Regions from separate parts of the Homo sapiens genome. Here region 1 is linked to region 2. Evidence: fine-mapped QTL for protein levels in blood plasma. Region 2 holds a variant in brackets. A gene starts in the other region. All regions are shown on their reverse strands.

Evidence for each region. PIP is the posterior inclusion probability: the model's chance that the variant is causal. Protein levels are from antibody-based Olink assays in UK Biobank. Linkage for the fine-mapping came from a reference panel and not from the study's own genotypes, which makes the PIPs less certain.
Region 1: it holds the start of PRSS53, and the variant in region 2 is fine-mapped to the plasma level of the PRSS53 protein (UK Biobank, PIP above 0.99).

Annotation. Positions count from the first base shown.
Region 1 is chr16:31,074,747-31,090,499 of GRCh38, reverse strand. PRSS53 (serine protease 53) reads left to right here and starts at 1,557. Exons shown (of 11, transcript NM_001039503.3): 1 at 1,557-1,748; 2 at 2,674-2,694; 3 at 2,801-2,963; 4 at 3,602-3,867; 5 at 4,009-4,163; 6 at 4,317-4,536; 7 at 5,240-5,390; 8 at 5,476-5,720; 9 at 5,797-5,942; 10 at 6,165-6,381; 11 at 6,691-7,063. The coding sequence starts at 1,691. The coding sequence ends at 6,710. ZNF646 (zinc finger protein 646) reads right to left here. Exons shown (of 3, transcript NM_014699.4): 2 at 8,799-14,254; 3 at 6,304-7,529. The coding sequence starts at 14,175. The coding sequence ends at 7,408. RefSeq lists enhancers at 1,380-1,880, 15,312-15,753.
Region 2 is chr12:11,281,475-11,297,984 of GRCh38, reverse strand. It overlaps LOC107987435 (a long non-coding RNA gene), which reads right to left. Exons shown (of 2, transcript XR_007063209.1): 2 at 12,350-16,510. Among named protein-coding and RNA genes, the nearest start is that of PRB3, 20 kb to the right of the region's middle. RefSeq lists enhancers at 1-111, 6,753-7,252, 7,253-7,754. The variant C/T (reference allele first, on the strand shown) is at 7,616.

The sequences.
Region 1 (15,753 bases), not on the chromosome of region 2:
CCATTCCAAGCCAGTATTGGTAGCCTTGGAGGGTCAGGGCCAGGTTGTGAAGGTTTTTGTTTTGCCTATTATGCCCTGACCACTTACCTACATGCCAAGCACTGTTTAAGAACTTGTGTTGGCAGGGTGCAGTGGCTCACACCTGTAATCCCTGTACTTTGGGAGGCCAAGGCAGGAGGATCACTTGAGGCCAGGAGTTCCAGACCAGCCTGGGCAAAATAGTGAGACCCCTGTCTCTACAAAAAAAAAAAAAAAAAAAAATTAGCCAGGCATGGTGGTGTATGTACCTATAGTCCCAACTAATCGGGAAGCTGGCGGGAAGACTGCTTGAGCCCAGAAGGTTGAGGCTGCAGTGAGCCATGATCACTGCACTCCAGCCTGAGCAACAGAGCAAGACCGTCTCCAAAAAAAAACAAAAAACAAAAAAAAACTTGTGTTAACGTGTTAAACTCGTTTAATCTTTACAGTGATTTATGAGGTGGGTACTATTATTATCCCTATCTTGATGATAGGGACAGAGTGGCTAATTAGTATGCCTGAGATCACACAGCTACTGCAGGAGGCTCTCAGGATTTGAATCCACCTGGTCCATCTGGCTCCAGCATCTATATGCTTTTTTTTTTGTTGGTTTGTTTTTGAGACGGACTTTCGCTCTTGTTGTCCAGGCTGGAGTGCAATGGCACAATTTCGGCTCACCACAACCTCCACCTCCCAGGTTCAAGTGATTCTCCTGCCTCAGCCTCCCGAGTAGCTGGGATTACAGGCATGCGCCACCAGGCCTGGCTAATTTTGTATTTTTAGTAGAGACAGTGTTTCTCTATGTTGGTCAGGCTGGTCTCGCACTCCCGACCTCAGGTGATCTGCCTGCTTTGGCCTCCCAAAGTGCTGGGATTACAGGCGTGAGCCACCATGCCCGGCCAGCATCTATAATATATGCTAAACCTTACCCACAGCTGCCTCTGTCTTGGGGTCAGGGTTCTTGAATGGTCTGGGCCAGCCTGAGTTAGGAGTGGGAAGAGGAAGAGGAGGCACGCGCCAAAGTGTTCTTCCCGCCTGACCGAGTCCTCTGCGCCTATGAGGAAGGTGGGCACCGCTGTCACCCTGTTTCCCAGGAAGCCAGCAGGCCCAGGGAGATACTGGGATTTGCCAAAGGCTCACAGCGAGCAAGCAGCAGTGGGTGCTGGCTCCTCACCACTCAGCCTGGCACACACTGTCTCTGAGCAGACCTGGGAGAAGGCATGTGAAACCCACCTAGCCCTGGCTGGAAGAGAAGTGGGGGAGTGGAAATGAAAAGTGGGGACTGGGAGGAGCTGCCCACGTGCCCTCCATGGTTCCAGGATGGCACTTTCATGCTGGGAGTGAGCTTGCCCTGTGCCAGGCTGTCATTGAGACGTTTTCCATTCAACAACTGTTTCTCAGACAAGGCACAGGCAGGTTAGCTCTCCCAGGCCACTCAAGTAGTAAGGAAACAGATTTAAACCCAGACAATTTGGCTCCACGGCTAAGGCCCAGAGAGGGGTGGTGACAAGCCTAGGGTCACACAGCCACAGCCCCAGAGCTAGGAACTGCTGGCTAGGGCAAGCAGACAGCTGAATCCTAGCCAACTGGAGGTGGAGCAGAGGTGGAGCCAGGGAGACCCAGGTGGCCTCTCTCAGAGTGGAGCACAGGTGGCAGAGTGGCCCGGGGCAGCATGAAGTGGTGCTGGGGCCCAGTGCTGCTCATCGCGGGTGCCACAGTCCTCATGGAGGGTAAGCCGCCATGTGCTGGGGTATGGGTGTGGCCTGGTGGGGGCTCAGGGGCCATCTCTGCCCCAGCAGTCCCTGCTTCTTGGTGGGGGGACCGCCTGTGGGCGACAGTCCACCAGTGGGGATGTAACTCCGTAGGACTCTGTGGGGTGGTATATGTGGCCACCTGTGTCAACATGGATGAGATTTTCTCGGGCCAGCTGCAGTTTGCGTTGGCGGGGCCTGTGGTCTTGTGTGTGTGTGAGGTGCTGCCTGCGTGTGTCCTGTGCCTGCCTCCCCCTCGACTTCCACAATGACGTCAGGCAAACTCTGGGCTCCTCTGGCCTCAGTTTCCCTTTCTTTTCATCCATCCTCTGGGCAGCCTGGCTCAGCTGTCTCATGGGGTGCCTGTGTGCCTGTGAGGGGCGGTGGGCAGGGGCCCTCTCTCTGGCGGGCTCTCAGACAGTTTCTGGGAAGGTGGGGAAGACTGAGTCTCTAGACCAGGGTGAGGTAAGTCTCCATTTCTTGGGGCCCTCCCCACTTGGAAATGATGCAGGCCTCTAATCCTTCCTCTTAGGCCTCTGCTGCTAAGAGGACAATTAAGCTAATGCTCTCTACACACACAGGCCGCCTGGCTGACTCAGTGGCGGGGGCAGGAGTTGGGGGTTCTGAAGCCTGGAGGAGGGCTGGCCTACTCCCAAGCTGAACCCCAAGCCCCAGAGTGCTGAGCACAGCTGAAGGAGAATTAATTACTGAGTGTGCACACTGAATAGGTTCCAATAAAAGCTGTCTCGGCCTCATATAAATATTTTCATTCTGGGAGGGGCTGGTAAGGTAATCAGAGTCACAGGCAAGGACCCTGGGCCCGCCCCCCAGCCCATCCCCTCTCCTCCCCAAAGCTAGGCAGGCCTGGAGTCCCTGCATCTTACCTGTGTCTCTCTCTTCCCAGGTCTTCAAGCCGCTCAGCGTGGTAAGGTCTGGGGACACGGGGCCTAGGTCTTACTTGGGTCTGGGTTGGGACTGGGGTGAGGTCAGGACAGGTATCTGCTGTCAGTGTGACTAACTCCTTTCCACAGCCTGTGGACAGCGTGGCCCCGGCCCCCCCAAGCCTCAGGAGGGCAACACAGTCCCTGGCGAGTGGCCCTGGCAGGCCAGTGTGAGGAGGCAAGGAGCCCACATCTGCAGCGGCTCCCTGGTGGCAGACACCTGGGTCCTCACTGCTGCCCACTGCTTTGAAAAGTAAGTCATGGCTGGGGTCAGGCAGGGTCTCCGGCTCTGGGGAGTGGACAATTTGTCTCAAGCCCCACAAGGCTAGTCCCTGCCTCTAGAGTAATAATAAAGAACCATTTACTGAGAATCTGCCATGTACTGGGTACATATTGTCAAGTTAATTGTAACAACCACCTTTCATGGTAGAAGATTTACAAATCAGAAAACTCAGGTTGCAAGGGAATGACCTCGCTTAAAGTCACAGACTGAGGCCGGGCACAGTAGCTCACGCTTGTAATCCCAGCCCTTTGGGAGGCCACGGAGGGAGGATCGCTTGAGCCCAAGAGTTCAAGACTAGCCTGTGCAACATAGCAAGACCATGTCTCTACAAAAACTGTAAAATTAGCCAGGCATGGTGGTGCACGCCTGTAGTCCCAGCTACTCACGAGGCTGAGGTGGGAGGATCGCTTGAGCCTGGGAGGTCAAGGCTTGTAGTGAGTCATGGTCATGCCACTGCACTGCAGCCTGGGCGACAGGACGAGACCCTACCTCAAAAAGAAAAAGCCGTGGAGTGCTCTCTGCTATCTTCCACCTACCTGTGGGGTCTCCCATGGTGTCACTGTCTACCCTTGCACTCAGCAGCCTGGACCTTGTCCTTCCCCTTCCAGGGCAGCAGCAACAGAACTGAATTCCTGGTCAGTGGTCCTGGGTTCTCTGCAGCGTGAGGGACTCAGCCCTGGGGCCGAAGAGGTGGGGGTGGCTGCCCTGCAGTTGCCCAGGGCCTATAACCACTACAGCCAGGGCTCAGACCTGGCCCTGCTGCAGCTCGCCCACCCCACGACCCACACACCCCTCTGCCTGCCCCAGCCCGCCCATCGCTTCCCCTTTGGAGCCTCCTGCTGGGCCACTGGCTGGGATCAGGACACCAGTGATGGTAAGTGCTGGCCCAGACTGAAGCTCGGAGAGGCACTCTGCTTGCCCAGCGTCACAGTCTCAGCTCCCAACTGTCCTGGCTTCCAGTCTCCCTTGCTTCCCAGATCCCAGACTCTAGCCCCAGCCCCGTCTCTTTCACCAGCTCCTGGGACCCTACGCAATCTGCGCCTGCGTCTCATCAGTCGCCCCACATGTAACTGTATCTACAACCAGCTGCACCAGCGACACCTGTCCAACCCGGCCCGGCCTGGGATGCTATGTGGGGGCCCCCAGCCTGGGGTGCAGGGCCCCTGTCAGGTCTGATAGGGAGAAGAGAAGGAGCAGAAGGGGAGGGGCCTAACCCTGGGCTGGGGGTTGGACTCACAGGACTGGGGGAAAGACCTGCAATCAGAGGGTGTCTGCCATAGCTGGGCTCAGGCATCTGTCCTTGGCTTTGTTGCCTGGCTCCAGGGAGATTCCGGGGGCCCTGTGCTGTGCCTCGAGCCTGACGGACACTGGGTTCAGGCTGGCATCATCAGCTTTGCATCAAGCTGTGCCCAGGAGGACGCTCCTGTGCTGCTGACCAACACAGCTGCTCACAGTTCCTGGCTGCAGGCTCGAGTTCAGGGGGCAGCTTTCCTGGCCCAGAGCCCAGAGACCCCGGAGATGAGTGATGAGGACAGCTGTGTAGGTACGAGTGGGGCATGCTGGGAGTGGGCAGAAGCCACTGTGAAGCAAACCTCAGTTAGGACTAGAGAACTGGCATAGGCATCCACACCGCCGAGCCTAATTAGGGGGCTCTTTCACCCCCTGGGATGGGAACAGCCCTGTTAGGGCTGAGAGGCACAGGCACTTTGGAACTCTACAGGTTTGGAGTTTAGGTGAGAAGAGGAATCTCTGAGACCTGACTTGGGTTTCTGGGGAAGTGGCAGGCTTCCAGCAGGGACCCAGCGAGCCTGCACAGGGTAGGGCTCCCAGTCAGAATTCCGGCATTAAGTGACTGGCATGCAAATTGAATGCAAAGTAATTCCTGGGACGGATATTATGTCTTGATGATAAGAGATGCACTAATGAGTCAGGAATACGGGAGGCAGGCCCATCCTGGAGGGTGCAGACGGGTGGAGCAGGGGAGTGACAAGTAGGGGCATTCCCACGAGGCTGGGACAGGGGTCCCATCAGACCAACAGGGCTAAAAGCTCAGGCCCTGGCTTGCGAATCGCAAGTCTGCCACTTGCCTGTAGTTACAGAGCAAGGAAGTCTCTTAACCTCTCTGGAACTTTGGTTACCTTCAGTAATGAGGGGAACAAAATTCAATTTCAAAAGCTACTGTGAGGATTTGATGGGAAGTGGGAAGTGCTTAGCAAGAAGTCAGATGAGGCACTTATCTGTTTCAGCCTGTGGATCCTTGAGGACAGCAGGTCCCCAGGCAGGAGCACCCTCCCCATGGCCCTGGGAGGCCAGGCTGATGCACCAGGGACAGCTGGCCTGTGGCGGAGCCCTGGTGTCAGAGGAGGCGGTGCTAACTGCTGCCCACTGCTTCATTGGGTGAGTCTTGGATCCCTCTCTGCTGTGCCCCCTGCCCCTGCCGGCAGCCCTGTCACCTGGTGCCGTCCACACTGCCTCTGCACAGGCGCCAGGCCCCAGAGGAATGGAGCGTAGGGCTGGGGACCAGACCGGAGGAGTGGGGCCTGAAGCAGCTCATCCTGCATGGAGCCTACACCCACCCTGAGGGGGGCTACGACATGGCCCTCCTGCTGCTGGCCCAGCCTGTGACACTGGGAGCCAGCCTGCGGCCCCTCTGCCTGCCCTATCCTGACCACCACCTGCCTGATGGGGAGCGTGGCTGGGTTCTGGGACGGGCCCGCCCAGGAGCAGGTAGGTGGGCACAGGGCCAGGGCTGCTGTCCATCCAACCTGCAGGCCGGGGCAGCCAGCTTTCCCTTGCTCCACAGGCATCAGCTCCCTCCAGACAGTGCCCGTGACCCTCCTGGGGCCTAGGGCCTGCAGCCGGCTGCATGCAGCTCCTGGGGGTGATGGCAGCCCTATTCTGCCGGGGATGGTGTGTACCAGTGCTGTGGGTGAGCTGCCCAGCTGTGAGGTGAGCCCCAGGCCCCCACACCTTACCTAACAGGCCCCTGGCATCCCCTCACCCAATAGCTCAAGAACGGACCTTCCAGGCTTGGCCTCTGGACCCACCTCCCACCTGAAACTAAGCCTTTTTGCCAATTAGCCCCCAAACAGCCAGAGGTTCCCTAGCCTGCTCTACCGTCCTGCACAGCTGCCTATAAAAAGTCACCCAGTGTCACCTGACCCCTGACAGGGCCTGTCTGGGGCACCACTGGTGCATGAGGTGAGGGGCACATGGTTCCTGGCCGGGCTGCACAGCTTCGGAGATGCTTGCCAAGGCCCCGCCAGGCCGGCGGTCTTCACCGCGCTCCCTGCCTATGAGGACTGGGTCAGCAGTTTGGACTGGCAGGTCTACTTCGCCGAGGAACCAGAGCCCGAGGCTGAGCCTGGAAGCTGCCTGGCCAACATAAGTATGTGGCCCCGGGGCCTCCTGCCAAACCCTGCCTCTCCAGGACCCTTCTCTCTCCAGTGAGAACGTGCCGTTCTAACCCACTCCAGCTGCCTTGGGTAGGGTGGAGCAACAGGCAGACCCATTTGATTCAGATTCTGGTTCTTTGTCATCGTGTGACTTGGAGCAGGCTGCTCAACCGCTTTGAGCCTCAGTATTCTCATCTGTCATGGCGGCCAAGACAGACCCTGTTCCTTCGAGGAATGGGGAGGGAGGGAGGGACCAAAGCCGTGAGGATGAGGACAACTCCACCCTCCTTCCTTCCCCACAGGCCAACCAACCAGCTGCTGACAGGGGACCTGGCCATTCTCAGGACAAGAGAATGCAGGCAGGCAAATGGCATTACTGCCCCTGTCCTCCCCACCCTGTCATGTGTGATTCCAGGCACCAGGGCAGGCCCAGAAGCCCAGCAGCTGTGGGAAGGAACCTGCCTGGGGCCACAGGTGCCCACTCCCCACCCTGCAGGACAGGGGTGTCTGTGGACACTCCCACACCCAACTCTGCTACCAAGCAGGCGTCTCAGCTTTCCTCCTCCTTTACCCTTTCAGATACAATCACGCCAGCCACGTTGTTTTGAAAATTTCTTTTTTTGGGGGGCAGCAGTTTTCCTTTTTTTAAACTTAAATAAATTGTTACAAAATAGACTTTAGAAAATAAGTTACAAATTGTAGCAAAAGGCTCCCTTCCACAGGCAACTTTCCCACCGGTGGGGCTCTGCATCCGCCTCTCCCTGGTGTTGCAATCTGGCTGCTGAGGGTGGCGCTGAGAAGAGCACGGTGATGAGGCTGGGGGAAGGAGGTCCTTCAAGGACAGGGACGCGAGGAACACCCCACCCCCTCCTTGGGAAAGAAGCCAGATCTGGGTCCTCTTCACAAGGGGAGAGGAGAAGATATGGGGATGCCCGAACTACTCCTGAGAAAATGTGGAGATCAAGCCCCTCCCTGCACGCGCTCCCTCCCCCAGATTCTGATCTTTGGAGACTTGAAGTTCAGAGGGAGAAGCTGAGGTCTGCAGGCCACTGGGGTGAAGGATCCAGGAGTGGGGTCGTGGGGGTGGGTGGAGGGGGCAATGGCAAGTCCCCTCTGCCCGTCACTGGTGCCACTGGGGCTCCTGGGGGGAGAGAGAGAGGAGGTCACCAACTGAGGGGCAGACCCCGCACAGCGTGTACCCCCTCCCAGCCCTGCAGGCCATTCCCCTGCCCCTGGCCCCGGAGGCCCAGATGAGAACAGGGATTCTAGGCCTCCTAATTATTTTCCCAGCCCTGGCAAACTGGCTCCTCCCTCATATCCCTTGAGGTCATGAGAAATCTTCTATCCTTAAAGCCATTCCTTCAGCTTTCAGGTGACTCCCACCTGCCCTCTGCTCTGACAAGGCCTGTCAAGGGCCCACCATCTCAGGGCCACCCACCCTCGGTGGCCACTAGATGGAATGGGTCCGCCTCTACTAGGGGAGGTGGAGAGGCCAGCCCAGGTCCTGCTGAGGGAACCGGCCGCCCCACTCCCTGGCAGCTGCGGCTTCCAGCAGTGCTGGGTGGAGGCGATTCCCCACGGAGATGCCCTCTGATCAGGGATGTGACACGGGCTAATGACTGTTGTTGCTGCAGCTGGGCCTGGACTTCAAGGAAACAATTATCTGTGACTCAGTCCTCCAGTTAAAGGTGTGCAGAGGGTGGCAGGGTGCGCAGGTAGAAAGGGTGGTTTGGTTGGATCCTAAAAAGGCCGTTGGCAGCAGAGGGAAAAGGGGCTGAATAAAGGTTAGAGAAGAGATGGGAGCAACACTGACAGGGAAGGACCAGAGGTCTAGTTTCCAAGGAGAGGAGCAGCAGAGACAAGGCGCAGGGAAAGAGGGACAGGGAGTAGGGTGCCAACCAGTGAACCAGTTTCCGTGGCCAAGTCAGCAGGGAAGCCGTGGAGCCCATGCCCCATCCCTTGTTCCCTGGCACCCGGCCTGCTCCAGGAAAGAATGGAACCTAGACCAAACCAATGGCTTCCTCTTTTTCTCTGGAAGTCATTACTTTACTGGCTGACTCAGGAGGGTTTCCAGACACAGCAGCCAGGGGGTACCCAGTGACCTTCCCCTGAACAGAAAGACCATTCCATTCTGGCTACAGTGTAATGGAGGAGCCCAGGTAGCAGCCTCGGCCTGACCACGCCCCCACGTGCTGCCCAACCCACCCTGCTATTTGTTATACCTGACTTGCGGGTGCTCAGCTCAGCACATCCTCAAGCTACTTCTCTCACCCCATAGCCAAGCCCCCACCCACCTCTTAGAATCCCCGGGGCTCTCTCCTCTCACTCCTTGCTCCCCCACCGACTTTGGGGCTGGACTTCCCCCTCCACTGTGTGCCCACCTCCTCCTGGGACCCTTCATGCCCCCTACCGGAGCCGGCCACCGTCCACTCCTCCTGGTGCTGCTGCTGGTGCTGCACGAAGCTGATTCGGCGGCGGAAGTGGCGGGGACAATGGGGGCAGGTGAAAGGCCCCTCCCGGGGTGCATGGACCCGCCCGTGGCCCTCCAGCCGGGCAGCTGTCCGAAAGGCCTTGCCACAGATGCTGCAGCAGTGGCGCTTGGGGTCCGTGTGGGTCCTGCTGTGGTTCTTAAGAGACAGCAGGTTAGGGAGAAGTTTGGGACAGAGGGAGCACGGGTACAACCCTGTGGTGTGGGCCTTCTGGTGGTTCAGCAGGCTGCCAGCATGGCGGTAGGAGCGCCCGCACTGGGTGCAGCGGAAGGGCCGCTCCTTGTCCTCAGCCGCCATGGACGTCACCGCTTGTCCTCCCCTGGCTCTCTCCACACTCTCTCCTGGGCCTCTGGGGGTTTCTGATGGGGCCTCCTGGGCTTTCCCTTGACCAGGGAGAACCACCTGGTCCTCCCCAGTCCCGGCTTTGGGATCTCTGGCCTCCTCCATCTGGGCTGGCACCTGGCTGTGGCCCCGGGCATGAGCCTGCAGGTGGCTGGCCAGTTCCTGGTGGGACTCAAAGGCTTTGCCACAGTCAGGACAGGCAAAGGTCTGGGCGTCTATGTGGTTGTGGCTGTGGCTCTTTGTGGCCACAGGATTTAAGAACTCCTTGGAGCAGAGCAGGCAATAGTGTCGGTCTGTCTTGTTGGTGTTGTGGTTCAAGAGGCTGCCTGACTGGCAGTAAGTCTTGCCACACTGGCTGCAAGAGGAGTGGCTCCCTGGCTGCAGCTGAGAGCTGTTGTCTCTGTTGTCCCAGCTATCCATGTGACTCAGAGTAGGTCCATTGAGCTGGCAGTCACCAGCGTGGCAAGGACTCCTGTGGACACTGTCCTCTGGCTCCTCTGACCTAGTTAGGAACTGAGGAACCCAGCCTCCACTATGATTCCCCAGTCCCCCACCTACCGGCCACCCACCTGCCTTCCCTGCACCCCAGGACAGTGGCTCTGGGGCTTCTGAGCTTGCTGCCCTGATGGGGCTCTGACTGCGCTCCCCTGGCCTTGGGACTCCATCCTCCAAGTGGGGTACTGGCTCAGCACCACCCAATTGGGTCTCTAGTCCCTGGCTGCCAGTCAGGTTCGCCTCACTGGCCGCTGTGCCATCCAGGCCTCCCTGGCCATTGGCTGGCTCCCTTTCTGTCTCCTCATGCTCCCGCAGGTGCCGCTCCAAAGATCCCCGGCCAGGGAAGCTGCGGCCACAGAGGGCGCAACGCACAGCTGTGCGCCTGGACCGTCCAGCCCGTCGCCGCCGATTCTCTGAGTGCAGCCTCTGGTGGTCCTTCAGGGCCATGCGGTTGGAGTAGGTCTTGGGGCAGGTGGGGCAGCTGTACTGGCCCGTCTCGTGGCTGCGCCGGTGGTTCAGGAGGCTGCCGGCGTGGCGATAGGTCCGCCCGCACTGCCCACAGCGGAAGGGCCGATCTTCCCGAGTCGCCTTTCGGGTGCCCCCACCCCCACGCCGTTCCATGTGGACCCGCTGGTGGCTGGCCAGCTGTTTCCGCAGGCGGAAGGCCTTCCCACACTCGCTGCAGCGGAAACGTCGGGGATCTGCATGGATGCGCCGGTGGTTCTTGAGGGACATGAGGTTTGAGAAGCCCTTGGAGCAGGCCTGACAGCCAAAGTGGCCGGTCTGGTGGCTCTGCCGGTGGTTGATGAGGCTGCCGGCGTGCTTGTAGGATCGGCCACACACCTCGCAGCTGAAGGGCCGCTCAGAGCTGGCTTCAGTCTGGCAGCCCTTCTCGGCAGTCTCCAGCCTGGGCTCTATCTCCTCCCCCTTCACAGTGGTCTCCTCCCACACCTCTTCTTTCACCCTGGCCACTTCCTCCAGGGGCTCCACTTTAAGTTCTTCCTGGAGCTTCTCGACTTCTGCTTGCCCCGGCCCCTCCTCTGCCATGTGCTGGGGCTTGTTGCTGCCTCCTTCTGGGATGGGCCCAACCTGCAGCTCACTGCTACCTGCTGCCTCTGGGATGGGCCCAACCTGGGGCTCAGAGCCTTTGCAGCGAGGGTGGTTCCGCAGATGATTACGGTAGGCAGCCAGGTTGGGGTAGCAGCGGGAGCAGACAGGGCAGAGAAAGTCTCCAGTCTGGTGGATCTTGCGGTGGTTCACCAGGCTGCCCCCATGGCGATAGGTCTTGCCACACTGGTTGCAGCGGAAGGGGCGGGGCTGAGCCTCCAACAAACTTTCCCCACCCTGGATGCAGAGGCTGTCTCCCAAGGGGGTGCCTGCTCCCTCTTGAGACTTGGCATCTCCACCCTCTCCAGAGACAGAATTCACTATGTCCTCCAAGACACTGTCCACGACCATCTCCATGGCATCACCTGCCACTCCCAAGGGGCTGGGAGCCTTGTCTGCAGTAGTCCCAGAACTCTGACTTTGGTGGTGACGCTCCAGGCTCCCCAGGTCATCGTAGGTCTGACCACAGCAGCCACAGATGTGCCCATACCCTGCACTGTCCAGCGCTTCCACCTCCCGCTGCAGCTGATTCAGCAGCTCTGCTTCCGAGAGCTGCAGTGGTGGACTGCGTGCAGGGGCTGCCTCTGCCACTCCTTCCTCTTCCCCCTCCTCCTCTGAGCCCTCAGTCATGCCAGAGGAGCTGTGGGCCTGGCGCCGGTGAAGCCTGTAGCCAGCCCGCCCAGGGAAGATCATGCCACAGAGGCAGCAGAGGAAAGGCTGTGCTGAGGTCGCCTCCCCAGGCCTATGGTTCTGGAAGTGGCTGCGGAGGGCAGGCAGAGAGTCAAACTCCTTCGGGCAGAGGGAGCACTGATAGATGCCTGGTGGGTGGCAGGGCCTGTGGCTCAGCAGGCCAGTGGCATGGGGGAAAGAATGCCCACAGTCAGAGCATGTGTGAGCGGCCCCAGCCTGCCAGCCAGTGACAGCATTGGCAGAGTGGGAAGAGGAGTTGGGTTGGCCAGTGGCTGGCTTCTGGTCTTCATCCACCCCAGTGAGGCTATCGCAGAAGTGAGTGCCACCACCTTCCTCACCTGGGATGTCCAAGTTGTCAAGTAAACTGGCATCCTTCCTTTCCAGTCCTTCCCCAGTGCCTCCGCTCTCTTTATCACCCTGGAAATGGGTCTCATCCCTCTCAAGCCCACATTTGTCCCCTTCAGATTCAGCCTGCAAACAGTCCCCATCACTTTCCAGGTTGCCTTCAGCCCCATGAGGACTTTCCCCTGAAGGGTCTTGGGGAGACTCCAGGCCTTCATTGTCTTCTAGCTCCCGGGTCCAGCTCTCCGCTGCCAGGAGTTTGGCTTCTCTCCCACCGCTGGCACCGCCAGCCCGCTTCCGATGCCGCCTGCTCCGCCGCCGACTGTGCCGGCGCAAGTGGTTCTTCATGGCAGCCATGGTGTGGAAGTGCTTGGCACAGGCCCCACAACTGAAGTCTCCTGTCTGGTGGGTCTGCCTGTGGTTGATAAGGCTGCCTGAGTGGCGATAGCTCTTTCCACAGTCTCGGCAGGCAAAGGCCCTAGGAGGTGACATTGTGGTCTCTGTTCTGCTATTTTCCTTTTCCCCTGCCCCATGAGTCAGGCCATGACGTTCAAGGCTCTCAGCGTCTTCAAAGAGCAGCCCACAGATGCTACAGATATGTGCTGCTGTCTTGTCTGCTGCTGGGGTGATGTCCGTGGCCTCTTCTTCATGTTTGCACACATGGTCCTGATCTGTGTGCGGGGCTGCCTCTGCCTCCACTGGGTCAGGCGGGAGTTCTACCTTGAGGTGGCTGGGGGCACCCTCAGCCCCGATGTCTGCACTTCGGCGAGCAGCCTTGCAATGTACCCGCACGTGGTTGCGCAGGGCCATGAGATTGGGGTACTTGCGGGGACAGAGTGAGCACTGGTACTCTCCAGTCCGATGGCTGTGGCGATGGTTCACCAGGCTCCCCCGGTGGCGGTAAGCACGACCACACTCACTGCACTTATAGGGCCGATGGTCCAGGGTGGTGGTGGGGTCCTCTTCCTCTTTGTGGGTGGTCTCAGCCAGCAGCAGGGGAGCTGGTGGGACTGATGGCTGCCCATTTTCCCCAACTCCTTGCCTGGGCCTGTGATGAGCCCGCACATGGTTTTTGAGGGCAGCCGCATTGAACAGCTGCTTAGAACAGAGTGAGCAGGGGTAGACACCTGTCTGGTGGCTCTTTCGATGGTTGATGAGGCTCCCAGCATGGCGGTAAGTACGGCCACAGTCCCCACAGCGGAAAGGCCGGTATTCCTCCAGGCCACTGTCCTCCAGCTCCCCAGAGGTGCTGAGCTCCGCAGAGCCATTCAGCATCTGTGCACTGGGGAGCTGGTCCTGGCTGCTCTCATCTGTGTGCCCATTGGTGGTGGGCATCCCTTTCTCCTCCCAGCGTGGCTCCTGCCTTTCACCCTCATGGGACTGCTGGTGTTCCAGCAGCTCCCGGGGGAGCCGGAAGACACGGGGGCAGTGGGGACAGTGGTAAGGCCGATACTGGGCATGCAGTCGAGAGTGGTTCTTCAGAGCCATGAGGTTAGAGAACTCCTTGAAACAGATGGCACAGGGGTAGATGCCCAGCGTGTGGCTCTGGCGGTGGTTGGTGAGGCTCCCGGCGTGCTTGTAGGTCTTGCCACACTGACTACATTTGTACCGCCGCTCCTCCTCAGCAGGAGGGGACTGGGTGGGCTCCTGGCCCCCTGTGAAGTTCACTACTGATTCAGCCAGATACTGTTCCAAGTTGCTAAGAAGGCTGCTGGCTGGGATGGGGAGAGGAGGGGCTCTGGCAGAGTTAGTGGAGGGTCCCCAGCCGTCTGCACCATCCTCAGGACCTGGGTGGCTTGCCAAGCCTTCTCTTTGTCTGGTGGGCAGATCTTCCCACGTACCCGAAGCTGCCCTGGGGTCAGGTACAGATTCACAGTCAGGTGTCTCTTCTGTATGTTTTGTCTGGTTTTCCCAGCCTTCACTAGAGCCAAGCCTTTGGCCCCAGGAGTCAGTGGACACCGTCTCACCCTGGAGGTGTGGAGTGGCTTCCTTGGGGCGTGGGGGCCTGTGCCTGCGGCGGCCCTCAGGAGCATGTGTCCTCATATGGCTCTTGAGAGCCATGGGATTGGAGAAGTCCTTGCCACAGGTGGTACAGGGGAAAAGGCCAGTCTCGTGGGTCCGACGATGGTTAACCAGGCTCCCGGGGTGACGGTAGCCCCGCCCACACTGCTGACAACGGTAGGGCCGAGGGATGCTGTCAGCCTCCTCACTGTCCTGGTTGGGAGATGGATGGAGCAGTTCTCGGTGCCGAGAGAGCTCTGGGAGGCTGGGAAAGTGGCGCTGACAGTCGGAGCAGCTGAGTGAGGGGGGTGTGTCCTCCATGGGGCAACGTAGCAGAAACCTGGAGGTTCAGAAGGAGCAGACACGTGGCAGCACCTTCCTCTGGTGGAGGGGCCAAGGCCTAGGAAGAGGGGGCAGTGGTCAAAAGGAAGGCCTGAATTAACTTCGCCTCTTGGCTCTACGAGCAACAAGTTCACCTGAGGTCACTGAGAGGTTCCCCAAGCATCCATGCCCAAGGACCTAATTTCTACTAGATCCAATCTGCAGGCACCATCATTTAAGGCTTCCCTGTGCACAAGCTTCCCAAATATAGGAGCTCCCCTAGGCTTAAGTCATCCCTACAGGTATAGCTAAGGAAATTAAAGTTGAGAGAGATGCAACCTACTTCTGATCACAGACCTGTTATGTTCTTCAGACCAGACTCAAAAGGCATTACTGTCCTTTAAGAACAGTAGGAATCTGCTCCCTACAATCCTGAAACAAAAATTTTCTGTGACATCTTAAAAGGACACCAAAACCTTCTCTAGGCCTTTCAATAAGAGAAGTCCAAATCTTCCTACTTCATCTCTCAGCTAAACAGAGTAGCTGAGAAGCACTGAAAAAGCAGCTGTTTCCTCCAGTTAATAGCTGAGGACCTGAGAGGAGAGGTTAGAGGCCTCCTTCAGGGAAAGGGCTGGCTTGTTCCCCCACCACCCCGAGTCATTTCAGTGTCACAAGGTCTCTTTTCCTTGTGACAAGAGAGTTAAGAGAGTTAAGACTCTCTTAACTGGGCCAGGTGTGGTGGCTCACGCCTGTAATCCCAGCACTTTGGGAGGCCGAGGCTGGTGGATCACCTGAGTTCAGGAGTTCAAGACCAGCCTGGACAACATGGTGAAACCCTGTCTCTACTAAAAATACAAAAATTAGCCGGGCGTGGTGGTGGGCACCTGTAATTCTAGCTACTCAGGAGGCTGAGGCTGAAGAACTGCTTGAACCTGGGAGGTGGAGGTTGCAGTGAGCTGAGATCCCACCACAGCACTCCAGCCTGGGTGACAGAGCGAGACTCCATCTCAAAAAAACAAAAAACCCCAAAAGACTCTCTTAGCGACTTCTTTTATCTACTTCCCTTGAACTCAAACTATCTTCCATCTTGGGAATAACATCAATACCAGGTTGTAATGTCACTTCATTGCCTACCTTTTCTCTCCCATGCCTCCTGATCTTACCCTCACCAGTCTTTCTCATTTTTTTCTTCTGCCTCCTCTCTTAATACTGATGATGACAGCAACTCATGAAGAGTATTATATTACCATGTGCCAGGCACTGTGCTAACTATATTCATTGTGTTACTCAATCCTCAGAACACACGGCAATGCCTGTTATTCTAGTTCACGTAACAGCAAACCCCCTGACTGAGGCGGTCTTCATCCCAAAGCCCTTGCTCTCTCATGCCCCCTACATCGTCTTGTCCTTCTCCAACTCTGACTCTTCTTCCCATGGGACCCCAGTACAACTGTCTCCGACCGTAAACCCCTTCACTGAACCTGCCCCCGGAATTCTCACCTCACAAAGCCCCTTTGATCAAAAGTCCCCTCCCCTAGTCAACCACCAATGAAGTCCTCTGACCTCACTCATCTCGTC
Region 2 (16,510 bases):
CGTGGTGCACCGTTTTTTAAGCTGGTCTGAAAAGCGCAATATTCGGGTGGGAGTGACCCGATTTTCCAGGTGCGTCCGTCACCCCTTTCTTTGACTCAGAAAGGGAACTCCCTGACCCCTTGCGCTTCCCAGGTGAGGCAATGCCTCGCCCTGCTTTGGCTCGCGCACGGTGCGCGCACCCACTGGCCTGCGCCCACTGTCTGGCACTCCCTAGTGAGATGAACCCGGTACTTCAGATGGAAATGCAGAAATCACCCGTCTTCTGTGTCGCTCACGCTGGGAGCTGTAGACCGGAGCTGTTCCTATTCGGCCATCTTGGCTCCTCCCCGCCAAATACCCACATTTTTTTTATCCAGTCTATCATTGATGGGCATTTCGCTGGTTCCAAGTCTTTGGTCTTGTAAATAGTGCTGCAATAAATATACGCGTGCATGTGTCTTTATAGTAGAGAGATTTATAATCATTTGGGTATATACCCAGTAATGGGATTGCTGGGTCAAATAATATTTCTGATTTTAGATCCTTGAGGAATTGCCACACAGTCTTCCACAATGGTTGAACTAATTTACACTCCCACCAGCAGTGTAAGACTGTTCCTATTTCTCCACATTCTCTCCAGCATCTGTTGTTTTCTGACTTTTTTTTTGTTTGTTTGTTTTGGAGACAGAGTCTGGCTCTGTCACCCAGACTGGAGTGCAGTGGCCCGATCTCAGCTCACTGCAACCTCTGCCTCCTGGGTTCAAGTGAGTCTCCTGCTTCGGCCTCCTGAGTAGCTGGGATTACAGGTGCGTACTACCATGACTGGCTAATTTTTGTGTATATATATATATTTTTTTTTTGACAGAGTTTTGTTCTTTGTTGCCCAGGCTGGAGTGCAATTGTGGGATCTGGGTTCACTGCAACCTCTGCCTCACGGGTTCCAGTGATACTCAGTCTCCTGAGTAGCTGGGATTACACTCATGCACCAACATGCCCAGCTAATGTTGTATTTTTAGTAGAGACAGGGTTTCACCATGTGGGTCAGGCTGGTCTCAAACTCCTGACTTCAAGTGATCTGCCCACCTCGGCCTCCCAAAATGCTGGGATTACAGGCATCAGCCACTGTGCCCAGTCTGTTTCCTGACTTTTTAATAATCACCATTCTAACTGGCATGAGATGGTATCTCATTGCGTTTTTGATTTACATTTCTGTAATGATCAGTGATGATGAGCTTTTTTTCATGTTTGTTGGACACATAAATGTCTTTTTTTGAGATATGTCTGTTCATATCCTTCACCCACTTTTTGATATGGTTGTTTGTTATTTTCTTGTAAATTTGTTTAAGTTACTTGTAGATTCTGGATATTAGATTTCGTCAGATGGATAGATTGCAAAATTTTTCTCCCATTCTGTTGGTTGCCTGTTCACTCTAATGATAGTGTCTTTTACTGTGCAGAAGCTCTTTAGTTTAATTAGATTCCATTTGTCAATTTTGGCTTTTCTTGCAATTGCTTTTGGTGTTTTAGTCATAAAGTTTTGCCCATGCCCATGTCCTGAATGATATTGTCTAGGTATTCTTCCAGGGATTTTATGGATTTGGTCTTACATTTAAGTCTTTAATCCATCTTGAGTTAATTTCTTAAATTATTATACTTTAAGTTCTAGGGTACATGTGCACAATGTGCAGGTTTGTCACATATGTATATATGTGCCATGTTGGTGTGCTGCATCCATTAACTCGTCTTTTACATTAGATATATTTCCTAATGCTATCCCTCCCCCCTACCCCCACCCTAACAACAGACGCCAGTGTGTGATGTCCCCTTCCTGTGTCCAAGTGTTCTCATTGTTTAATTCCCACCTATGAGTGAGAACATGTGATGTTTGGTTTTTTGTCCTTGCGATAGTTTGCTGAGAATGATGGTTTCCAGATTCATCCATGTCCCTATAAAGGAAATGAAGTCATCATTTTTTATGGCTGCATAGTATTCCATGGTGTATATGTGCCACATTTTCTTAATCCAGTCTATCGTTGTTGGACATTTGGCTTGGTTCCAAGTCTTTGCTATTGTGAATAGTGCTGCAATAAACATACGTGTGCATGTGTCTTTATAGCAGCATGATTTATAGTCCTTTGGGTATATATCCTGTAATGGGATGGCTGGGTCAAATGGTATTTCTAGTTCTAGATCCCTGAGGAATCGCCACACTGACTTCCACAAGGGTCGAACTAGTTTACAGTCCCACCAACAGTGTAAAAGTGTTCCTATTTCTCCACATCCTCTCCAGCACCTGTTGTTTCTGGACTTTTTAATGATTGCCATTCTAACTGGTGTGAGATGGTATCTCATTGTGGTTTTGATTTGCATTTATCTGATGGCCAGTGATGGTGAGCATTTTTTCATGTGTTTTTTGGCTGCATAAATGTCTTCTTTTGAGAAATGTCTGTTCATGTCCTTCGCCCACTTTTTGATGGGGTTGTTTGTTTTTTTTCTTGTAAATTTGTTTGAGTTTATTGTAGATTCCGGATATTAGCCCTTTGTCAGATGAGTAGGTTGTGAAAATTTTCTCCCATTTTGTAGGTTGCCTGTTCACTCTGATGGTAGTTTCTTTTGCTGTACAGAAGCTCTTGAGTTTAATTAGATCCCATTTGTCAATTTTGGCTTTTGTTGCCATTGCTTTTGGTGTTTTAGACATGAAGTCCTTCTCCATGCCTATGTCCTGAATGGTAATGCCTAGGTTTTCTTCTAGGGTTTTTGTGGTTTTAGGTCTAATGTTTAAGTCTTTAATGCATCTTGAATTAATTTTTGTATAAGGTGTAAGGAAGGGATCTAGTTTCAGCTTTCTACATATGGCTAGCCTCTTTTCCCAGCACCATTTATTAAATAGGGAATCCTTTCCCCATTGCTTGTTTTTCTCAGGTTTGTCAAAGATCAGATAGTTGTAGATATGCAGCATTATTTCTGAGGGCTCTTTTCTGTTCCATTGGTCTATATCTCTGTTTTTGTACCAGTACCATGCTGTTTTGGTTACTGTAGCCTTGTAGTATAGTTTGAAGTCAGGTTGCGTGATGCCTCCAACTTTGTTCTTTTGGCTTAGGATTGACTTGGCGATGAGGGCTCTTTTTTGGTTCCATATGAACTTTAAAGTAGTTTTTTCCAATTCTGTGAAGGAAGTCATTGGTAGCTTGATGGGGATGGCATTGAAATTACCTTGGGCAGTATGGCCATTTTCATGATATTGATTCTTCCTACCCATGAGCATGGAATGTTCTTCCATTTGTTTGTATCCTCTTTTATTTCCTTGAGCAGTGGTTTGTAGTTCTCCTTGAAGAGGTCCTTCACATCCCTTGTAAGTTGGATTCCTAGGTATTTTATTCTCTTTGAAGCAATTGCGAATGGGAGTTCACTCATGATTTGGCTCTTTGTTTGTCTGTTATTTGTGTATAAGAATGCTTGTGATTTTTGTACATTGATTTTGTATCCTGAGACTTTGCTGAAGTTGCTTATCAGCTTAAGGAGATTTTGGGCTGAAACAATGGGGTTATCTAGATATACAATCATGTCATCTGCAAACAGGGACAATTTGACTTCCTCTTTTCCTAACTGAATATGCCTTATTTCCTTGTCCTGCCTCGTTGCCCTGGCCAGAACTTCCAATACTATGTTGAATAGGAGTGGTGAGAGAGGGCATCCCTGTCTTGTGCCAGTTTTCAAAGGGAATGCTTCCAGTTTTTGCCCATTCAGTATGATATTGGCTGTGGGTTTGTCATAAATAGCTCTTATTATTTTGAGATATGTCCCATCAATACCTAATTTATTGCGAGTTTTTAGCATGAAGTGTTGTTGAATTTTGTCAAAGGCCTTTTCTGCATAGATAATCATGTGGTTTTTGTCTTTGGTTCTGTTCATATGCTGGATAACATTTATTGATTTGCATATATTGAACCAGCCTTGTATCCCAGGGATGAAGCCCTCTTGATCATGGTGGATAAGCTTTTTGATGTGCTGCTGGATTTGGTTTGCCAGTATTTTATTGAGGATTGTTGCATCAATGTTCATCAAGGATATTGGTCTAAAATTCTCTTTTTTGGTTGCATCTCTGCCAGGCTTTGGTATCAGGATGATGCTGGCCTCATAAAATGAGTTAGTGAGTCCCTCTTTTTCTATTGATTAGAATAGTTTCAGAAGGAATGGTACCAGTTCCTCCTTGTACCTCTGGTAGAATTCGGCTGTGAATCCACCTGGTCCTGGACCTTTTTGGTTGGTAAGCTATTGATTATTGCCACAATTTCAGATCCAGTTATTGGTCTATTCAGAGAGTCAACTTCTTCCTGGTTTAGTCTTGGGAGGGTGTATGTGTCAAGGAATTTATCCATTTCTTCTAGATTTTCTAGTTTATTTGCATAGAGGTGTTTGTAGTATTCTCTGATGGTAGTTTGTATTTCTGTGGGATCGGTGGTGATATCCCCTTTGTCATTTTTATTGCGTCTATTTGATTCTTCTCTGTTTTCTTCTATATTAGTCTTGCTAGCGGTCTATCAATTTTGTTGATCCTTTCAAAAAACCAACTATTGGATTCGTTAATTTTTTGAAGTGTTTTTGTGTCTCTATTTCCTTCAGTTCTGCTCTGATTTTAGTTATTTCTTGCCTTCTGCTAGCTTTTGAATGTGTTTGCTCTTGCTTTTCTAGTTCTTTTAATTGTGATGTTAGGGTGTCAATTTTAGATCTTTCCTGCTTTCTTTTGTGGGCATTTAGTGCTATAAATTTCCCTCTACACACTGCTTTGAATGTGTCCCAGAGATTCTGGTATGTTGTATCTTTGTTCTCAGTGGTTTCAAAGAACATCTTTATTTCTGCCTTCATTTCGTTATGTACCCAGTAGTCATTCAGGAGCAGGTTGTTCAGTTTCCATGTAGTTGAGCAGTTTTGAGTGAGTTTCTTAATCCTGAGTTCTCGTTTGATTGCACTGTGGTCTGAGAGACAGTTTGTTATAATTTCTGATATTTTACATTTGCTGAGGAGAGCTTTACTTCCAACTATGTGGTCAATTTTGGAATAGGTGTGGTGTGGTGCTGAAAAAACTGTATATTCTGTTGATTTGGGGTGGAGAGTTCTGTAGATGTCTATTAGGTCCGCTTGGTGCAGAGCTGAGTTCAATTCCTGGGTAGCCTTGTTAACTTTCTGTCTTGTTGATCTGTCTAATGTTGACAGTGGGGTGTTAAAGTCTCCCATTATTATTGTGTGGGAGTCTAAGTCTCTTTGTAGGTCACTCAGGACTTGCTTTATGAACCTGGGTGCTCCTGTATTGGGTGCATATATATTCAGGATAGTTAGCTCTTCTTGTTGAATTGATCCCTTTACCATTATGTAATGGCCTTATTTGTCTCTTTTCATCTTTGTTGGTTGAAAGTCTGTTTTATCAGAGAGTAGGTTTGCAATCCCTGCCTTTTTTTGTTTTCCATTTGCTTGGTAGATCTTCCTCCATCCTTTTATTTTGAGCCTATGTGTGTCTCTGCACGTGAGATGTGTTTCCTGAATACAGCACACTGATGGGTCTTGACTTTTTATCCAATTTGCCAGTCTGTGTCTTTTAATTGGAGCATTTAGTCCATTTATATTTAAAGTTAATATTGTTATGTGTGAATTTGATCCTGCCATTATGATGTTAGCTGGTTGTTTTGCTTGTTAGTTGATGCAGTTTCTTCCTAGCCTTGATGGTCTTTACAATTTGGCATGATTTTGCAGTGGCTGGTACCGGTTGTTCCTTTCCATGTTTAGTGCTTCCTTCAGGAGCTCATTTAGGGCAGGCCTGGTGGTGACAAAATCTATCAGCATTTGCTTGTCTTTAGAGGATTTTATTTGTGTTTCACTTATGAAGCTTAGTTTGGCTGGATATGAAATTCTGGGTTGAAATTCTTTTCTTTAAGATTGTTGAATATTGGCCCCCACTCTCTTCTGGCTTGTAGAGTTTCTGCCTGGAGATCCACTGTTAGTCTGATGGGCTTCCCTTTGTGGGTAACCCAACCTTTCTCTCTGGCTGCCCTTAACATTTTTTCCTTCATTTCAACTTTGGTGAATCTGACAATTATGTGTCTTGGAGTTGCTCTTCTCGAGGAGTATCTTTGTGGCATTCTCTGTATTTCCTGAGTCTGAATGTTGGCCTGCCTTGCTAGATTGGGGAAGTTCTCCTGGATAATATCCTGCAGAGTGTTTTCCAACTTGGTTCCATTCTCCCTGTCACTTTCAGGCACACCAATCAGACGTAGATTTGGTCTTTTCACATAGTCCCATATTTCTTGGAGGCTTTGTTCATTTCTTTTTATTCTTTTTTCTCTAAAGTTCCCTTCTCGCTTCATTTCATTCATTTCATCTTCCATCACGATACCCTTTCTTCCAGTTGATCGCATCAGCTCTTGAGGCTTCCGCATTCTTCACGTAGTTCTTGAGCCTTGGCTTTCAGCTCCGTCAGCTCCTTTAAGCACTTCTTTGTATTGGTTATTCTAGTTATACATTCGTCTAAAGTTTTTTCAAAGTTTTCAACTTCTTTGCCTTTGGTTTGAATTTCCTCCTGTAGCTTGGAGTAGTTTGATCGTCTGAAGCCTTTTTTTCTCAACTCATCAAAGTCATTCTGCGTCCAGCTTTGTTCTATTGCTGGTGAGGAGCTGCTTTCCTTTGGAGGAGGAAAGGCACTCTGCTTTTTAGAGTTTCCAGTTTTTCTGCTCTGTTTTTTCCCCATCTTTGTGGTTTTATCTAGTTTTGGTCTTTGATGATGGTGATGTACAGATGGGTTTTTGGTGTGGATGTCCTTTCTGTTTGTTAGTTTTCCTTCTAACAGACAGGACCCTCAGCTGCAGGTCTGTTGGAGTTTGCTAGAGGTCCACTCCAGACCTGGTTTTCCTGGGTACCAGCTGCAGTGGCTGCAGAACAGCAGAGTTTCGTGAACTGCGAATGCTGCTGTCTGATCGTTCCTCTGGAAGTTTTGTCTCAGAGGAGTACCCAGCTGTGTGAGGTGTCAGTCTGCCCTTACCAGGGGGTGCCTCCCATTTAGGCTGCTCAGGGTTCAGGGGTCAGGGACCCACTTGAGGAGGCAGTCTGCCCATTCTCAGATCTCCAGCTGCATGCTGGGAGAACCACTGCTCTCTTCAAAGCTGTCAGACAGGGACATTTAAGTCTGCAGAGGTTACTGCTGTCTTTTTTTTTGTCTGTGCCCTGCCCCCAGAGGTGGAACCTACAGAGGCAGGCAGGCCTCCTTGAGCTGTGGTGGGCTCCACTCAGTTCGAGCTTCCCGGCTGCTTTGTTTACCTAAGCAAGCCTGGGCAATGGCGGGCGCCCCTCCCCCAGCCTCTCTGCCGCTTTGCAGTTTGATCTCAGACTGCTGTGCTAGCAATCATCGAGACTCCGTGGGCGTAGAACCCTCTGAGCCAGGTGCAGGATATAATCTCCTGATGCACCGTTTTTTAATCCTGTTGGAAAAGCGCAGTATTGGGGTGGGAGTGACCCGATTTTCCAGGTGCCATCTGTGACCCCTTTCTTTGACTAGGAAAGGGAACTCCCTGACCCCTTGTGCTTCCTGAGTGAGGCAATGCCTCGCCCTGCTTCAGCTCACACACGGTGCACTGCACCCACTGTCCTG[C/T]GCCCACTGTCTGGCACTCCCTAGTGAGATGAACCACGTACCTCAGATGGAAATGCAGAAATCACCCATCTTCTGCGTTGCTCATGCTGGGAGCTGTAGACCAGAGCTGTTCCTATTTGGCCGTCTTGGCTCCAGCCTCACCACATTTTCTTAATCCAGTCTATCATTGTTGGACATTCGGGTTGGTTCCAGGTCTTTGCTATTGTGAATAGTGCTGCAATAAACATACGTATGCATGTGTCTTTATAGCAGCATGATTTATAATCCTTTGGGTATATATCCAGTAATGGGATGGCTGGGTCAAATGGTATTTCTAGCTCTAGATCCCTGAGGAATCACCACACTGTCTTCCACAATGGTTGAACCAGTTTACACTCTCACCAACAGTGTAAAAGTGTTCCTATTTCTCCCCTCCTCTCCAGCACCTGTCTTTTACTGACATTTTAATGATTGCCATTCTAACTGGTGTGAGATAGTATCTCATTGCGGTTTTGATTTGCATTTCTCTGATGGCCAGTGATGATGAGCATTTTTTCCTGTGTCTGTTGGCTGCATAAATGTCTTCTTTTGAGAAGTGTCTGTTCATATCCTTCACCCATTTGTTGATGGGGTTGTTTGCTTTTTTCTTGTAAATTTGTCTGAGTTCATTGTAGATTCTGGATATTAGCCCTTTGTCAGATGAGCAGCTTGCAAAAATTTTCTCCCCCTCTGTAGGTTGCTACAGAGTGGCATCTGCTCACTCTGATGGTAGTTTCTTTTGTTGCTCAGAATCTCTTTAGTTTAATTAGATCCCATTTGTCAATTTTTGCTTCTGTTGTCATTGCTTTTGGTGTTTTAGACATGAAGTCCTTGCCCATGTCTATGTCCTGGATGGTATTGCCTAGGTTTTCTTCTAGGGTTTTTATGGTTTTAGATTTAACATTTAAGTCTTTAATCCATCTTGAATTAATTTTTGTATAAGGTGTAAAGGTGTAAGGAAGGGATCCAGTTTCAGCTTTCTACATATAGCTAGCCCGTTTTCCCAGCACCATTTGTTAAATAGGGAATCCTTTCCCCATTTCTTGTTTTTGTCAGGTTTGTCAAAGATCAGATAGTTGTAGACATGTGGTATTATTTCTGAGGGCTCTGTTCTGTCCCATTGGTCTATATCTCTGGTTTGGTACCAGTACCATGCTGTTTTGGTTACTGTAGCCTTGTAGTATAGTTTGAAGTCAGGTAGCCTGATGCCTCTAGCTTTGTTCTTTTGGCTTAGGATCGACTTGGCAATGCAGGCTCTTTTTTGGTTCCATATGAACTTTAAATTAGTTTTTTCCAATTCTGTGAAGAAAGTCATTGGTAGCTTGATGGGGATGGCATTGAATCTGTAAATTACCTTGGGCAGTATGGCCATTTTCACGATTTTGATTCTTCCTATCCATGAGCATGGAGTTTTCTTCCATTTGTATCTTCTTTTATTTTGTTGAGGAAGTTCTGGCCAGGGCAATCAGAAAGGAGAAAGAAAGAAAGTGTATTCAATTAGGAAAAGAGGGAGTCAAATTGTCTCTGTTTGCAGATGACATTATTGTATATCTAGAAAACCCCATCGTCTCAGCCCAAAATCTCCTTAAGCTGATAAGCAACTTCAGCAAAGTCTCAGGATACAAAATCAATGTGCAAAAATCACAAGCATTCTTATATACCAACAACAGAGAAACAGCCAAATCATGATGAACTCCCATTCACAATTGCTTCAAAGAGAATAAACTACCTAGGAATCTAACTTACAAGGGATGTGAAGGACCTCTTCAATTAGTTAATTTTTGTGTAAGGTGTAAGGAAGGGGTACATTTTCAGTTTTCTGCATATGGCTAGTCAGTTTTCCAAACACCGTTTATTAAATAGGGAAACCATTCCCCATTGCTTGTTTTTGTCAGGTTTGTCAAAGAGCAGATGGTTGTAGATGTGTGGCGTGATTTCTGAGGCCTCTGTTCTGTTCCATTGGTCTATATATCTGTTTTGGTACCAGTACCATGCCATTTTGGTTACTGTAGCCTTGTAGTATAGTTTGAAATCAGGTTGCATGATGCCTCCAGCTTTGTTCTTTTTGCTTAGTATTGTCTTGGCAATATGGGCTCTTTTTAGTTCCATATGAAATTTAAAGTAGTTTTTTCTAATTCTCTGAAGAAAGTCAATGGTAGTTTGATGGGAATAGTGTTGAATCTATAAATTACTTTGAGCATTGTGGCCATTTTCACAATATTGATTCTTCCTATCCATGAGCCTGGAATGTTTTTCCATTCGTTTGTGTCCTCTCTGATTCCCTTGAGCAGTGGTTTGTAGTTCTCCTTGTAGAGGTCCTTCACATCCCTTGTAAGTTGGATTCCTAGGTATTTTATTCTCTTTGAAGCAATTGTGAATGGGAGTTCACTCATGATTTGGCTGTTTGTCTGTTATTGGTGTATAAGAATGCTTGTGATTTTCGTACATTGATTTTGTATCCTAAGACTTTGCTGAAGTTGCTTATTAGCTTAAGGAGTTTTGGGGCTGAGATGATGGTGTTTTCTAAATATACAATCATATCATCTGCAAACAGAGACAATTTGACTTCCTCTCTTTCTATTTGAATACCTTTATTTCTTTCTCTTTCCTAATTGCCCTGGCCAGAACTTCCAATACTATGTTGAATAGGAGTGGTGAGAGAGGGCATTCTTGTCTTGTGCAGGTTTTCAGAGGGAATGCTACCAGTTTTGCCCATTCTGTATGATATTGGCTATGGGTTTTTCATAAATAGGTCTTATTATTTTGAGATATGTTTCATCAATACCTAGTTTATTATGTTTAGAATGAATGGGTGTTGAATTTCATCAGAGGCCTTTTCTGCATCTATTGAGATAATCATGTGCTTTTTGTCATTTGTTCTGTTTACTTGACGGATTACATTTATTGATTTCTGTTTGTTCAACCAGCCTTGCATCCCAGGGATGAAGCTGACTTGATCACGGTGGATAAGGTTTTTGATGTGCTGCTGGATTCGGTTAGCCAGTATTTTATAGAGGATTTTCGCATTGATGTTCATGAGGGATATTGGCCTAAAATTTTGTTTTTTTTGTTGTGTCTCTGCTAGGTTTTGGTGTCAGGATGATGCTGGCCTCATAAAATGAGTTAGGAAGGCGTGCCTCTTTTTCTATTGTATGGAATATTTTCAGAAGGAATGGTACCAGCAGCTCTTTGTACCTCTGGTATAATTCGGCTGTGAATCCAGCTGGTCCTGGGCTTTTTTTCTTGGTAGGTTATTAATTACTACCTCAATTTCAGAACTTTTTATTGGTCTATTCAGCGATTCAACTTCTTCCTGGCTTAGTGTCTGGAGTGTGAATGTGTCCAGGAATTTGTCCTTTTCTTCTAGATTTTCTAGTTTATTTGTGTAGAGGTGTTTATGGTATTCTGTGATGGTAGTTTGTATATCAGTGGGACACTGGTAATATTCCCTTTATCATTTTTTATTGTGTCTATTTAATTCTTCTCTCTTTTCTTCTTTATTAGTCTGGCTAGTGCTCTATATATTTTGTTAATCTTTTCAAAAAACCAGCAACTGGATTCATTGATTTTTTGAAGGGTTTTTCATGTCTCTATCTCCTTCAGTTCTGCTCTGATCTTAGTTATTTCTTGTCTTCTGCTAGCTTTTGAATTTGTTTGCTCTTGCTTCTCTAGTTCTTTTAATTGTGATGTTAGGGTGTCAATTTTATTTTATTTTATTTTTTCTTATTATTCTTTAAGTTCTAGGGTACATTTGCACAATGTGCAGGTTTGTTACATATGTATACTTGTGCCATGTTGGTTTGCTGCACCCATTAACTCATCATTTACATTAGATATTTCTCCTAATGCTATCCCTCCCCCATCTCCCCACCACACAACAGGCCCTGGTGTGTGATGTTCCCCACACTGTGTCCAAGTGTTCTCATTGTTCAATTCCCACCTATGAGTGAGAACATTTGGTGTTTGGTTTTCTTTCCTTGTGATAGTTTGCTCAGAATGATGGTTTCCTGCTTCATCCATGTCGCTACAAAGGACATGAACTAATCGTTTTTTATCACTGCACAGTATTCCATGGTGTATATGTGCCACGTGTTCTTAATTCAGTCTATCATTGATGGACATTTGGGTTGGTTCCCAACCCAAAAGACCTTGGAAACACAGTATATTGATGCAAATTGTTGAGAGCTTCAACTGACAGAAAGGTGCCTGAGCTCCTGTTGCAGTCCTGCTCCTCACTTTGACCCCATCCTCACTCACTGACAGGGTCTCTTTCAGCTCTTCTGTCACCTCTGTTTTATTTGTGTCTGGAGAGTTCATAGCTGATTTTTATTCTTCTCTAATACACTAATCTTTTTCACTCATTGCTGACATTGGAAAATGTCAGGGAAAGGGCGTGAGCTGAGTGATATTTGAAGGCAATGCTTGCTGTCTTCCTGTATTCACCAAGACAAGGGGGAGCCTTTCTTTCACCAGGACTATCACTTCTACAGGAACCTATGCAACGAGGCAAGTCTGCATGGCACTTCCCTCTGTGCCTGCCCTCTGATCTTCCTTTCCTACTTAGAAGGTCCAGCATAAGTCACTAAGCAGGAACATTCATCTCCAGTTTCCCTGTCCAATTAGTGTGTGTGGAATGTAGTGACACTCATCCCAATAACATTAGGGTACCTGCTAGGCCAGGCAACTATTCTGTGCCTCCCATAAAGCACATAAAGCCAAGCTACAATTGTTTTATTATTGCATAGCCAAAGAAGAATTGCTAACTGGTAATATATTTCCTCTTAGCAAACATCCCTAATATTCCAGAAGGGGTGAGGGAGGAAAACAACAATCTGCCTGATCACCAGCCAATGGCAGAGTAATCAGCAACAAACTTCATTGTATGAGGACAACTTCCAGTAATATAAGGCATCTTCAAACTGTTTGTGGAAAATATATATTATTTTTTAAAATTATGCAGGGATACAAACATTTTTCATACCAAAATACATTTTTACTAACTTGTTACAACATGTCTGAAAAGGATATAGTTCAGTCACTAACATGGTTGAGACAGCAGTTTGAAAACAACTTCTATCAGATCAACAAATATTCTACTAAAATTGTATCAAGAACAAATATCAAGTTTATGATGCAGCTTGGGCGGAGGGATGGTGAAATCACTGATGCATCATGAAATATTTGTGCCCAAGTAAATCAGCCCTTCACAAATGGATAACTCCTTTTAAGAATTGACTAGATGATGGTGAAGATGAACTCTGCAGCAGCAGACCATACACAGCAACTTATGGGCAAAAATTTTATCTTCTTTTATTCCAATTGAAGAGACCTCACAGTTAACAGCAGAAAAAAGGGCTAGCACAAGAAGACTGTCAATTGGTTCAGATTACATAAATTTTTTTCTGGCTGAAAAATTAAAGTTGAGCAAACTATCGACTTGATGATGGCCAAAACTGCTGTACCTGAGTCAGCTACAGAGAAGAACAGAAGGTTCAATGAAAAATTAAAGAAGTAGGAAGTAGAAGAAAAGAAAAGAAAAGATCCTAAAGCATTTCTTTGGAGAGTTGTAACAGGAAATCAAACATGGCTTTACCAGTGCCATCCTAAAGGAAAAACACAATCAAAGCAATGGCTACCAAGAGGTGGAAGTGGTCTAGTCTAAATAAATGCGACAAGAGCAAACATCATGTCAACGGTATTTTTGGATGTTCGAGGTATTTTGTTTGTTAACTTTCTGGAGGGTCAAAGATGACGACATCAGCTTATAAGTTTGGAGTTTGGAGAAAGTTAGCCAAATCTTTAGCAGATAAATGGATGAGATTGGATGCCTAGTGAATGTCCCTCATAAGTCTGGCAAAATTGCCCTTGTTTCATGAGAGAAATGAGCAGGAGCATTGTTGTGATGGATAAGAACTCTCTGCTAAAGCTTTTCCGGGCATTTCCCTGCTAAAGTTTTGGCTAACTTACTCCATACTCTCTCATAAGTTGATGTTATCATTCTAAGTCAAGCAACTTAGGAATGGAAAAGCCAACATCGCATGTTCTCACTCATGAATCGGAGCTAAACTATGAGAATGCGAAGGCATAAGAATGACACAATGGACTTTGGGAACTCAGGGGGAAAGAGTGGGAAAGGGGAGAGGGGTAAAAGACGTCACTTTTACCTCTCTCTTATACACTGGGTGCAGTGTATACTGCCCGGATGATGGGTGCACCAAAATCTCACAAATCACCACTGCAGAACTGATTCACATAACCAAACACCACCTGTTCCCCAAGCTATGTAAATAAAACAAAAAAGAAAAAAAAAAAAAAGAAAATCCCTAGGCACCCAACTTACAGTTCTGATGCAGTATCTTTGGACTTCAGATTTTTTTTCTAATATTGAAATATTTTTAAAGTGTACTCTGTTTTCTTCAGTTAATGATGTGAAAAGACTGCATTCTGAAACTAATTTCAGGATCGTCAATTTTTATAGATAGGCTAAATTACTTGTATCATTACTTGCTAAACTTCTTGAATGTGATGGAGCTTACGTTAAGAAATAAAGTTTACATAATGTCTACTTTCATATTGTAATTATATTCTTCCACAAACTTTTTGAAATCCCCTTTTATTCTCAAACCATTCTGGAAGGGCAGGAACAGATTCTTATGTGTACAACACAGGATCCCCTCATCCAACTGATCAAGCAGTTTGTCTTTAGGATTTCCAGTCACATCCCCCTACTCATTACTTCTAACATGGCCATCCCGAAGTTATCACTATCCCTGAACAAAAACTGAATGACAGCACGAGACTTATTCAAAGCCTGAAATGATAAGTGGCAGCTGTTGATACTGACTCACCTACGCTTTCCATGAAAAGGATGAAAGGATGGGCAGGAACTACTTGATATAACAGAAAAGTCAGCAGATGAAAAGAGAGCTACCAACAGAACCTCAGTAAAAAGACCTTGGAAACACAGTATATTGATGCAAATTTTAAAAACAAAAAGAAAAATAAAGGAGTAACAAGAAATATAGATGGTTACTTAGAAGATTAGATTTAAAAATTTTCCCAAATTTCATTTAAAAAGAAGTCAGATATAAGATGAAAAGTAAACACAGGCAAGATTGATTTAGAACACAAAATTTCAATAAATACATTTTAGAAAGAGACTGGGAAGAAATTAGTTTCAGAATATTGCAAAAATGAAAAAAATTTCTGTGTGAAAGAACAGTCTGGGAGACAGATATCACAGGCTCTAAGAAATAGATCAATGCAATACTCTTGAGGCTTTTATGTGGGTGCCAGACCATCTTATTTAAGCATATAATTGTGACCACGCATTTTAATTGGGAGTGATTAAAAATTTTTCCTAGAAGAAAGGCTGAATGTGGCAACTGATGCCTATAATCGCAGGACTTTGGAAGAGTGAGGTGTGAGGATCCCTTGAGGCCAGAAGTTCAAGACCAGGCCGGACACGGTGGCTCATGCCTGTAATCCCAGCACTTTGGGAGGCCGAGGCGGGCAGATCATGAGATCAGGAGATCGAGACCATCCTGGCTAACACAGTGAAACCCCGTTTCTATTAGAAATACAAAACCAAATTAGCCGGGCGTGGTGGTGGGCGCCTGTAGTCTCAGCTACTAAGGAGGCTGAGGCAGGAGAATGGCGTGAACCCAGGAGGCGGAGCTTACAGTGAGCAGAGATTGCGCCACTGCACTCCAGCCTGGGACAGAGTGAGACTCCGTCTCCAAAAAAAAAAAAAAAAAAAAAAAAAGGCCAGCCTGAGCAAAGTGAGGCTCCATCTCTTCAAGAAAAGTTTAAAACAAACAAACAAAAAATAAACGGACATGGTGTCATGAACCTGTAATTCAAGCCACTCAAGAGGCAGAAGCGGGGGGAATCCCCTGAGCACAGGAGTTCAAGGATGCTGTAAGCCAGGATCATGACACCACACTCCAGCCTGGGTGACAGAGCGAGAATCTATATTAAAAAACAAAATTTCCTAAAAGATGTAAATCCCAAACTGAATCTGATCAAACATTCTAACAAAGGGGTAGAGCAAGGAAAAAAATTTAAAGACAAAATAGGATGTCCCCTTTAAGAACTGTGTATTCATTCTGTTCATTCTAGAACCCCTTGGTAGTTTTCGGGGCCAACTTTGTTTTAACCTCCCCATGAATATTAATAATACAATGCGTGAAGACACCTGTATTCTACAACACCAAGACTTTTCTGACTAGAGCCAGATCAAAGAATATTAGACAATCTGTGTGGGTCTGACCAGGCTGAGGGCCAACCTTCTGTCAGCCATGAATGGCCAGGTTTGTGTTGTCTTCACACAGCTCAAAGTTCCAAAGAAATAATCTCTATATAATCAAATATTTAGCAAAATATGATAGGCATAGGTATACAAAAATCCACAACCAACTTCTTGTCCCTTAGAATATGATTGTGTTTAGAAAACAGCCCTAGGAAGAGGTTATCAAGCTGAAATGATGGAGTTTCAGTGGAACTAAATCCAATAAGATTGCTGTCCTTATAAGAAGTGGAAATTCCTTATAAGAACTGGAAATTTGTAGAGAGAGACACAGGAAGTACATACACATCCATGGAAGGACACAGCAAGAAGGCAGATACCTAGATGCCAAGCAGACACAGCCCAGAAGAACTAAACCTGCTGACACCTTCCTCATGGAACTTGAGCATCCAGAAGTGTTGGAAAGTAATTTCTATTGCTTAAGAATACCTAGTCTGTGATATTTTGTTTTGACGGCTATGATGAAGAAATTCAGGGGAGAGCAGGTTTTAGGAGTAGAAATCAAGAGTCCTGCTTGGCACATGGTAAATTTACATTTGTTTTAAATGGCAAGTGGATTACTGAGGTCC